Linked DNA regions of Homo sapiens: region 2 is linked to region 1. Evidence: fine-mapped expression QTL. A gene starts in region 1. The other region holds a variant in brackets. All regions are shown on one strand. Distances are between the middles of the regions. Region 1 holds the start of GRM1 (glutamate metabotropic receptor 1). Region 2 overlaps GRM1 (glutamate metabotropic receptor 1).

Evidence for each region. PIP is the estimated chance that this variant, and not a neighbour inherited with it, causes the effect.
Region 2: its variant is the best candidate, but not a certain one, in a credible set for the expression of GRM1 in left ventricle (GTEx, PIP 0.86).

What each region holds. Positions count from the first base shown.
Region 1 is chr6:146,026,500-146,031,886 of GRCh38, forward strand. It overlaps GRM1 (glutamate metabotropic receptor 1), which reads left to right and starts at 2,563. Exons shown (of 8, transcript NM_001278064.2): 1 at 2,563-3,718. The coding sequence starts at 3,019. RefSeq lists enhancers at 2,381-2,881, 2,882-3,382.
Region 2 is chr6:146,203,265-146,208,651 of GRCh38, forward strand. All of the region lies in intron 2 of GRM1 (glutamate metabotropic receptor 1), which reads left to right. Among named protein-coding and RNA genes, the nearest start is that of GRM1, 180 kb to the left of the region's middle. The variant G/A (reference allele first, on the strand shown) is at 2,298.

The DNA.
Region 1 (5,387 bases):
TTACCTCTTCCCATTTTCCTTATGTAAACATGTGGCTACTTCCCGAATTGAGATCATTTAGTCTAAAAAATGTGAACGTTGTTTAGTGCATTATTTGTGGAAAAAGAAAAAAATATATTCTCTTTGGGCTGTCTAAAAAAAAAAAATCCAGAAAACTCTGACACTTAGGGAAAAAAAGATCAGAACCAGAATGAGAAAGACCTTTTGTTATTGACTAGAGGTATTGTTTTCCTTCCTAAGTTTCATGGAACACACTGAAGAGTATTTGAAACTGCCTCATGTGGTTTGTCCCCTCCAGTCTGACATGGCACCATTCCATAATATAATAATGACCTGAGCAAGGCGATTATAAGCTGACCCATAAGGGACCAACGTAAGCTGATCTCTCTGCTCTGCAGATGACACAAATAGAAAGCTTTGAACAAGAGTAGAAAGACACACTGTCACTTGTCTTTTCCCCTGAAAAAGCCGGGCCACATTCTGCTCAGCCAACATGTTCCCAGAGGAATGTGATTTAACTTCCGCTTTTCACACAGTCAGAAGCAACACCATAGACCTGTAGGGAAGGTGATGGCCGCCTGGGAGGAATTTGGATAAGTATTTGTCACTCCAGTATTTTCATGTGACCTGACTCTCATTCTCAATTTAGTTACATCTTGACCTGAAAATGCAGCCACAATATGTCTCTCTTCATTTGGCATACCTTAATTCATAATGGGCATGCCTGTCCTTTCCCTTCTCCCACCCTATGCAGCCTCTTCCTGATTTCCCTTGCAATCTACTAATAGAGCCTTTCTTTAGATGTCTGTACATGTGTTTACACTCTGTTTCCCTCTGTAGGGACTTTACTCGCAGAAAGAGAAAATATATTTGAGTCCCTGAGATATATATACAAAGATATCTACCCCAAAGCAGCCTAGGCAGTTCTCCACTTCTTTGGCCAGATTGTCTGACTATTCACGTATCTGGCAGCTTCTATACGACCCCTCATATAGTAAAGGAATTAATATTCCCCACTTCCTCCTAGTTTGTCTCCCCTCCTCCCTCTATCAAACGACTGATTTTTATACATGAGATAATAGACAAGCCTTGGGTGACCTGTTTTTTTTTTTCTTCCCTCCCCCTCTTTTTCCCTTGCGGTAAAATAGTGCTGAAGAAAGAGGGCACTAGTGTACAGCCCAGATCGCATCCTTGCACCGTCTGGATTAGAGCTGAGGCGTCTGCAAGCCGAGCGTGGCCACGGTCCTCTGGCCCCGGGACCATAGCGCTGTCTACCCCGACTCAGGTACTCAGGTATGTCTCAAGTCCATGTCCTCCAAACAGACTCAGGTGAGCGGACACTTCCTCCGGTGAAACCCACCCACAACGGCAGACAAAGTCCCAGTCTATCAGATTTTCCTCCGGGTCCCAGGCGCATTCTCGCTTATGTATTTCTTTTCGTCCTGTATCCTCAGGAAGAGTCGGGACCAATGGGTGCCTGGGTTTTCTTTCTCCTTTTTCTGCCTCACCTCCTGTGCTCTCCTCGCCCGCTCCCATAGCCCCCTTTTCGTCGACTCTCACCTTGAGAAAAGGAGCAGGGGAGGAACGGGAGAGGGAGCCAACTTCAGCCCCGCAGGCGGCTGAGATTTGGCGCCTCTGTCCCCAAGCGGGTGGGTTTGGATATATACCTGCACAAGCGGTGCAAGGTGATGAGAATGAGGGCGGAGGGGCGGTGGGGACTCGAGTGGAAGGGAGTGTGTGTGTGTGTGTGTGTGTGTGTGTGTGTGTGTGTGTGTGTGTATGGGTAAAGAACTCAGAGGAGGGAGGTTGAAAGAGCAAAGCGGGTCAGGGAATTGCAACTCACTGGTCAAAGCGTCCCTTGCAGGCCCTGCCAGGGAATGTCTGGCTGGACCGAGCACTGTCCAGGGTCCTGAAGGCGGCAGGGCTCAGGCTGCCGCGGCGAGAGCAACCCGGAAGCTCCCCTCCGTTCCCTTTCTAGCAACTATGCAAACCCCAAAGCAAGCGCAGGACCCCCCCTAACCCGTCCACCCACCGCGGGAAACAAGTTACCTTATCTGCACCCCTTCTTCTTGAACATACACAGCAAGCCTGACTTCTTACGGGGGAAACATACCAAACTCCTCCATACGGAGACTTTACCAGGCGTTGCCTTAGTAACTAATGTGGATTTTCTTCAAGCTGGCAAATTTATATTTACAGCTGATTTTATGTCAGGGCTTCTTCAACCCCTCAAAATTAAAGTAAAAGGTGCATCCTTTGTTTACGTTTATTTTAAAGTCGCGCTTCCACCTTTACAATGAGTTTCCAAATTTTCTTCTGAAAAAAAGTTGATCTTTTCCAATCCGGAAAGTTCTCTTGGGTTGAAGGACCTAGCTCCTCCCCTCCTCTCTGCTCACCTTCCCCACCGCCCTCCAAGTTAGAAAGCATGATAGGTTTTAGGGGACCAGGAAACGACTTAAGGTTGGAGGAGCGGGCGAGTTGGCGGGGCTCTGCGCCGCCTGGACCCGTGAGGACAGAGGGGGCAGGACACCCCGCCTTCCTCAGTGACCACAGCTGCGCTCCAAGCTGTTCCTGCAGCCGATATCAGGATGTGCCGAAATGAAACGGACAAGGCAACTGTTAACATTATAGACCCCAGAGTTTTAACACAGGTCCTCTGATGACAAGGTTGTGATTTTTCTCTGTCTTTTGTCAGCAGCATCTAGCTCACCGCTGCCAACACGACTTCCACTGTACTCTTGATCAATTTACCTTGATGCACTACCGGTGAAGAACGGGGACTCGAATTCCCTTACAAACGCCTCCAGCTTGTAGAGGCGGTCGTGGAGGACCCAGAGGAGGAGACGAAGGGGAAGGAGGCGGTGGTGGAGGAGGCAAAGGCCTTGGACGACCATTGTTGGCGAGGGGCACCACTCCGGGAGAGGCGGCGCTGGGCGTCTTGGGGGTGCGCGCCGGGAGCCTGCAGCGGGACCAGCGTGGGAACGCGGCTGGCAGGCTGTGGACCTCGTCCTCACCACCATGGTCGGGCTCCTTTTGTTTTTTTTCCCAGCGATCTTTTTGGAGGTGTCCCTTCTCCCCAGAAGCCCCGGCAGGAAAGTGTTGCTGGCAGGAGCGTCGTCTCAGCGCTCGGTGGCCAGAATGGACGGAGATGTCATCATTGGAGCCCTCTTCTCAGTCCATCACCAGCCTCCGGCCGAGAAAGTGCCCGAGAGGAAGTGTGGGGAGATCAGGGAGCAGTATGGCATCCAGAGGGTGGAGGCCATGTTCCACACGTTGGATAAGATCAACGCGGACCCGGTCCTCCTGCCCAACATCACCCTGGGCAGTGAGATCCGGGACTCCTGCTGGCACTCTTCCGTGGCTCTGGAACAGAGCATTGAGTTCATTAGGGACTCTCTGATTTCCATTCGAGATGAGAAGGATGGGATCAACCGGTGTCTGCCTGACGGCCAGTCCCTCCCCCCAGGCAGGACTAAGAAGCCCATTGCGGGAGTGATCGGTCCCGGCTCCAGCTCTGTAGCCATTCAAGTGCAGAACCTGCTCCAGCTCTTCGACATCCCCCAGATCGCTTATTCAGCCACAAGCATCGACCTGAGTGACAAAACTTTGTACAAATACTTCCTGAGGGTTGTCCCTTCTGACACTTTGCAGGCAAGGGCCATGCTTGACATAGTCAAACGTTACAATTGGACCTATGTCTCTGCAGTCCACACGGAAGGTAGGCATTATATTTGGGAAAGAAGGGTACTGAGAAAGTCAGGGCAATGCATGATGTGCTCCTGGGATCATAGTATTGTTCCTGTTTATTTCTAGCACTGTGGGGAACGGAGTTTACCCTTCTCAGTACTGCCCACCCAGGCATTGCCTTTTATCCTCATTTCCTTACAATTATAGTGTAGGAAAATTGTACCCCATAGAATATCTGAGGATAATAGGAGCTGAAAGGGTATCAAACTTTCCATGCAAAGTGTCCAGCAGTAGATTTGACTTGAATACTTGTTTGCCCTCATATTTTGAGTTTGCGTTTGGAAGGCTTATTTGTCCAAGGTGTTATATTGCCCTTCAGTGACTGGCTATGACTTTCCAGGTGTAATGAGTTAATTCAGTGTGAGTGATTGGCAAAAAGAAGTTACTATTCCACAAATAGGACTTCAAAGCTTTATCTTTCTTTAACAGTTGAAGATTTTCTTTGTCCTCTTGTACCCCTTCTTACATATCCAAAACTTTCCTGTGAATGTAGGATTAATGCAGTCATCTCCCTCAGTATATCAGAAACTTATATTTTTACTTCTGGAGTACCTTAGTTACAAAGAAAAAGTAAGTAATTTAAATAATGTATTTTCTTCTTACTTTATAGGCTAAAATCATCCAGATTCCCTCACTCCCCCAAGAATTATCTTGTTTTATGAGAAATAACACTGGTGACCACTTGGATTTGAGTTTTGGTTTCTAGTCTTTTTTCTTCTAACACAATGAACTTACATATTAGAATTAAAGTTAGATCAGTTATAAAATACTAATGAATGGATAGCAGATATTAGGTTTATAATGTCTTTCTAAAATGCAATAGATTAACCTAAGGTTAAAAGCTTTGATTTTTCCAGAGACTTATGGATGTGAATTTTCAAAAATTTTTTATATAAAGATTTTCTAGACTCTCTTCACCTTAGGTTATATACATTTTTTAATAAAAGGGGATTTCTGAGCTCAGCTACTCTTAAGTCCCCCAGTAGGTTTATGAAAAAGCTGAAGCCCTGGTTATAAATTAACATCTAGGACAATTCACATGTATAAGCTGGCAGAAGAAGACAATCTTGCTGGTATTTCTGTATTCATATTTCTTCAACTCAAATGACTTTCAAGAAGCCATAGGCATGGCTCCATGTTTTTTTAATATTTCCATAATATTCAGTTACTGGCGTGAGGTCTGATTATAGAAATTGACAGCATCCATAGTGAAGTGATTATATGGTTATCATTATTGAAAACATATACTTTATAAAGGGAACAGAATTTTCAGAACAAACATAAATGATATAGGATTACACATTATAATTTCAGATTTTGCTTTTGGAAAAAACTATCTGCTGTGATATTATAACTTTATAATAACTGACTTATGCTTCTGAAGCTTGATTTTTAATCATGAACTGCGTATCTCTTTTTGAACAAAAATTCATTACTTTTTTAAGACTCAAAGTATTAATTCCTTATATTTTAATATTTAACTTTACTACATGTTAATGTTTAGCATAGTTTCTTTAGTGCTTGCTTAAATGAAACATCCTGAAAGAGCAAGTTAAAATGTGTTAAATATCATCATTGGATAGATCCAAAGATGATGGCAAAGAGAATGGCAAAATCTAGATTGAATGTGATTTATTTAA
Region 2 (5,387 bases), 180 kb after region 1:
ATGCAGAGGAGTTTATTTCCTGGTCATGTAACAGTCTGATGAAGGGGTTACTGCCATTTGTGCCGCTATTCCCTCTGTCGGGGGTTCATCTTCTTTCATGTTGTTGCTCTGTCCTCCACCAGGGCATTAGAGTCCTCTGTTTCCAGCTAGCAGACATAGAAAAGTGAATGTAGGAGTGCATGCAAAGTGAGGCACATCTCTTTCTCTTAGATTCATCAACTAGAACTTAGCCTAATTGTGCACCTAGGCTCAAGGGGCTGTGGGAGATGTAGACTCTGACTAGATAGTCCTATTTCAGGGACAGTTTTATGCTCAAAGGAGGAGAACTCATTTCTTTTGTGAACCTCCAGCTTTCTCTACCATGGCCAGACTTGTGACTCAGTGAACTTGATGGCACCCAAGATAATCAGACTATATGCCTAAAGCACAGTATGTATAGAGGAATCTTACTTAACCATTGTTTAACAAGGGTTGTAAAACTTTTGGAAACTCTGAAACTTGAACTCGTATCCTACATTTGAATTCCACGGCAAAGAGAAAACCAGAAAATATTATGAAAAACTTTATCTCTCATGTAAATTCCCACAATGTTGGATGTTGGAGCATTAATTGCTGTCACCCTTTGCTAATTCCCTTATCCTTTGGGTATGTGGATAGCAAAAATCTTTTCAAATAAAAAGAAGTATTTTATTTCAATCACTATACCAACGTTTTATAAGAATAAATTCACTTGTTCTTCAGCACATGTAGATTGTGTTATTTTTGAATATAATGTTCTTATTGAGTGTTAATTATATGCACCTACACTTTCAAAGAAGTGATAACTAGATACTGTCAAACTGATAACAGCCAGTCTTCTCTCTAGCTTTATGCATGTGTTAATTTATAAGGTGGATTAGCAGGAACTTCACAAGCCCTTTATTTTTGGTCTGCTTGGAGATGAGAGCGATGAAAGAAAAAAATGCAGATATATTGCTTCTGTTTAAAAATTCGTAATAAGACAATGGGCAGAAGTGCTCTAGCACAGAAGTTTCTATTGATGAAAGCATTTGCCAATTTACCCTAATTTCCTGAACGTTTACGGTTAGCAAAGAAAGTACACATAAGCACAGAAAAATCTATTTTTATTTTTCTATGATTTTCTTAATTTACACCCTTTAATTTGGAAAAGACCCATTTAACTGTGCTTAAAATTATTTGCAGGGCACGGTCTATTGTTAACATTTTCATGTAACTTCATAGGGTCCAATGAAATGGGTGCAGAAGGTGTAGCCCAGGTATCACATTTATAGATGGGCCTGGTATTAGAATATGCCATGTCCATGTTCAGAACTTCATTTTTAAATAAATTTCTTGAAATTTATGATGATTCAGAAGTAATTCAGATTTAATTTAAATGTTTCTTATAAGGTTTGCTAAATAAAATACTGCCAAAAAGGTTGGAAGAGTATATTGAACTTTAAAGCAATTTAGAAGCCTTAGTTGTGTGCTTTTGGGATGCTCAGGTTCATGGGCAAACACAGCAGGGGCACTTTTGTGCACGCAGAGTTCTGAAACAGCGCTAAGGGAACAGACCCAATGTGTAAGGCAGGGGCCTTATTTTCAGCCACTCTATGGCTGCCCTTGAAATTCATGTAATGCTTTAAGATATATCCTCACATTCTATGAGGACATGGGCTTTGTTTCATAGGGTCCTTGAATTTCAGTAGAGTTGGCCCCTTTACAGTGTTATGTAATATTTTGTTATTGAATGAATATATGAAAATGCATGCATCAAAAATGTCCAATGACTTCATTTATATTCTGCATTTAATCTATTTCTAATTAGTGAACTTTTAAGTAATGTGAAAAGTGGCTTCAGGATAGTTTGGGGTTCAATTGAGGACATGTTTTAGAGTAAAAAATATCTATAATACTCAAAGATTTTGTTAGAAAATGACAAAGGAGGTCATTGAGTTATGGTCCCTTTTTCCACAAAGCTAATTTCTTTCTTTATTGTGAACTACTGTTTAATATTCTTTCATAGCATACAAAATTTATTTTAAAAGATAATGTTCATTTTATGGAAAACTTTATGGTGTTCTGGCTTTTTCTATTTATTTTCCTCATTCCTTTTTGAGGACTGATTTAACTCAGCATGTATGTTTCAGATGAGTGAATATTTAGGAAGCAAATTCTTAATAGCTAGATGATCTGACAGTGGATATTCGAAAGGGTAAAGCAACGGAAATAACATGGTGAACATTTCAGGATCCTGGTGAATTATTATGCGGAAAGTTTTTGAAAATTTATTTTTC[G/A]TTAAGTTAGTCTGAACCTGAATTGTTATCATAACAATGCAGCATATTCTTCTGTCTAAGGAGGTAAGTGAAATCAGATTTAAAAACTCAATAACTATACTTAGAAATGGCACATTAAAACTTAATTTTATTTTCTCCCTTTTAAGCAAGACTCAGCCCTTTGTCTACTTTCAATCCTGTTCTGGGGCACACACTTTTTCTGAAGGCAAGCTGAGAGCACTTTGCATTGTAAGCAAACTGAGGTTCAGCCTTACCCTGCCCCTGTCCTGATTAATATTTGGACATTTACCTGGTTCTCCTTTTCCCACATGCTCCAAGCAAAAACTTGCAGGCATGTGCAGAGTCACAGGCAGGCTCTCCCAGGGAGGCGGGAGCAGAGGTCCACTAGCAGGCAGCATCATCATGTTCTCTTGATCTCTATAGGTTCTGGGACCTTTAAACCTAGGTGGAAGGTGATTAAAGAAAGGAAGAGATTGATGTATGTCGTAGCAGAGAAAGAGAAGTGGGGACATCTGCCAAGCATGGTCAGCATGGTTTCCTATATCCTAGGAAAGCTAATCAGGACCGTTTCTGTAGGACCTGTATCATTTGAAATCTTTTCTGCTTTTGAGTTTAAGGCAGAAAGATGTAGTCAGGAGAAACAGATAGAGAAGCAGGAGGTAAGCCCAATGGCTTGTGGGGGAAGAGAATGTTTACAGTGTACACTTGATAGGGAAGGCAATTTTATTCCTGTCTTCCCAGATCATCCCCACTTCTAGTTCCTTACTTTGTTGCTAGATGCTCCCATGAGAGGAAGAAGGAGTTGCTATCCCAGGCCTGGGATCTTGATACTGTCAGTTGCCAGGGTTATCATTCCTTAATATTACAAAGTTATGCCTATTTATTATTATCTTCCTGGTTTTATGCAGCAGAGTGGGCAAGTGGTCTTAGGGTCTCAGGGAGCTTGATTAAGAGGCAGCCTCATTCTTGTATTCTCTGTCTCTCTGTCTCTTTCTCCCCCTAAAATCTACTTGATCTTAGATACAGACTTGGATGTTTGTTAGTTTCTTCAAATAGTGTTTTTTTTTTTCTTTTTAAGTTTTATTTTAGGTTTGATGGTACATATGAAGGTTTGTTACATAAACACATGTCATGGGGGTTTGTTGTACAGATTATCTCATCACCCAGGTATTAACCCCAGTACCCAATCTTTTGGGTACTTTTGGGTACCCAGTTATCTTTTCTGCTCCTCTCTCTTCTCTCACCCTCTCCACTAGAGTAGACCCCAGAGTCTGTTGTTTCTTTCTTTGTGTTCATTAGTTCTTATCATTTAGCTCCCACTTATAAATAAGAACATGTGGTATTTGGTTTTCTGTTCCTGCATTAATTTGCTAAGGAAAATAGCCTCCAGCCCCATCCATGTTCCCACAAAAGACATGATCTCATTCTTTCTAATGACTGCATAGTATTCCATGGAGTATAGGTACCACATTTTCTTTATCTAATCTGTCATTGATGGGCATTTAGGTTGATTCCATGTCTTTGCTATTGTGAATAGTGCTGCAATAAACATTCATGTGCATGTGTCTTTATGGCAGAATGATTTACTATTTATATTCCTGTGGGTATATACCCAGTAATGGGGTTGCTGGGTCAAATGGTAGTATACTTTAAGCTCTTTGAGGAATTCACCATACTGCTTTCTACAATGGTTGAATTAATTTACACTCCCACCAACAGTGTATAAGTGTTTGTAATAACAACTCATTGTGGTTTTGATTTGCACTTCTTTAATGGTCAGTAATATAGAGCTTTTATTTTCTTGCTTGTTGGCCACATGTATGTCTTCTTTTGAGAAGTGTCTGTTCATGTCCTTTGCCCATTTTTTAACGGGGTTGTTTGTTTTTTCTCTTGTAAATTTGTTTAAGTTTCTTATAGATGCTGGATATTGGACCATTGTCAGATGAATAGTTTGGAAATATTTTCTCCATCAGAGCTCTGTATTAGCTACTTGCATAGTTACTAGTTAAGTAGTACTTCAATTCCTATTTTTCTGCAGAGAGGAGTAATGGGCAGGAAAAGCTAGAGACACCCCCAGATATTTGGCCATAATACTATCACACACCACCCAAACCCCATCTTTTAAAATAGGCAACTAAAAGTATAGAAAGACAATTTGTTTTGATGAGAGGGGGAAGAAGATATTTGGGGTCAAACAGACATGTGTTTGAATCCTTGCCTAAACTTAGTGACTAGTTATTTATTACATTTTAAGTTGTTGGTCTGAGCCTATTTTATTATCCCTAAAATGGGGTTTGTAATATTTTCCCTGAAGAGTTGTTGTAAAAGTCGCACCTAGTACATTCCATTCTTTGATATATAATAGACATGAATTTATAGGCATTTTTATCTAATCAGCTTCTGAGATTTTTCCCTCCTTTCCCCTCTTGCAAAAGACCTCTTTCTCTCTTTCATACACAACAACCCTCAGGCTGCCTGTCATCTTTCTCTGACTTCTCTTTTTTTCTTAAAGGTTGCCCTGATTCACTGTCATCAGACTTCATTTGTATATACCTACAGGCAGTTGAGGGCTGAGTAAAATAGAAGGACATAAGTCTTGTGGGCTTACAGCGACTTAGATAATACAGGCATATGACATAGGTCACCTCTCTGTCAGGCGACTTCATGATCCTTGTTGGTAACCCAAGAAGGCTAATGGCATAACATGCTTTCAAACTGATAATTCTTACATATCTTTTCAACTTTTATTTAGAGTGAACAGGTGATGTTTCTATTGAAAAAAATGTATATTTTTTTCTGTGTATAATGTAGTTTGTTGTATGTAATGAAGCAGTAAAAATTGTTTTAGAATTATCTTTCATTTCACAATTTTAAGTCATTCTTAAACAAGTAACATTGGTTATTCATACAGACAAAGTGTTAAATATGTTCCCCTTTCCACCTCTTTATCTGGCTATTAAAAATATCATCTAAATAGATACTTAACCTTATTTCTGGACTCTGCCAATCTTTCTTCATTCTACTCATGTCGGGGTCTTGATCATTTATTGTCATTATGCATTTTGAAGTTGTTAGGAATTTTACCTTTGA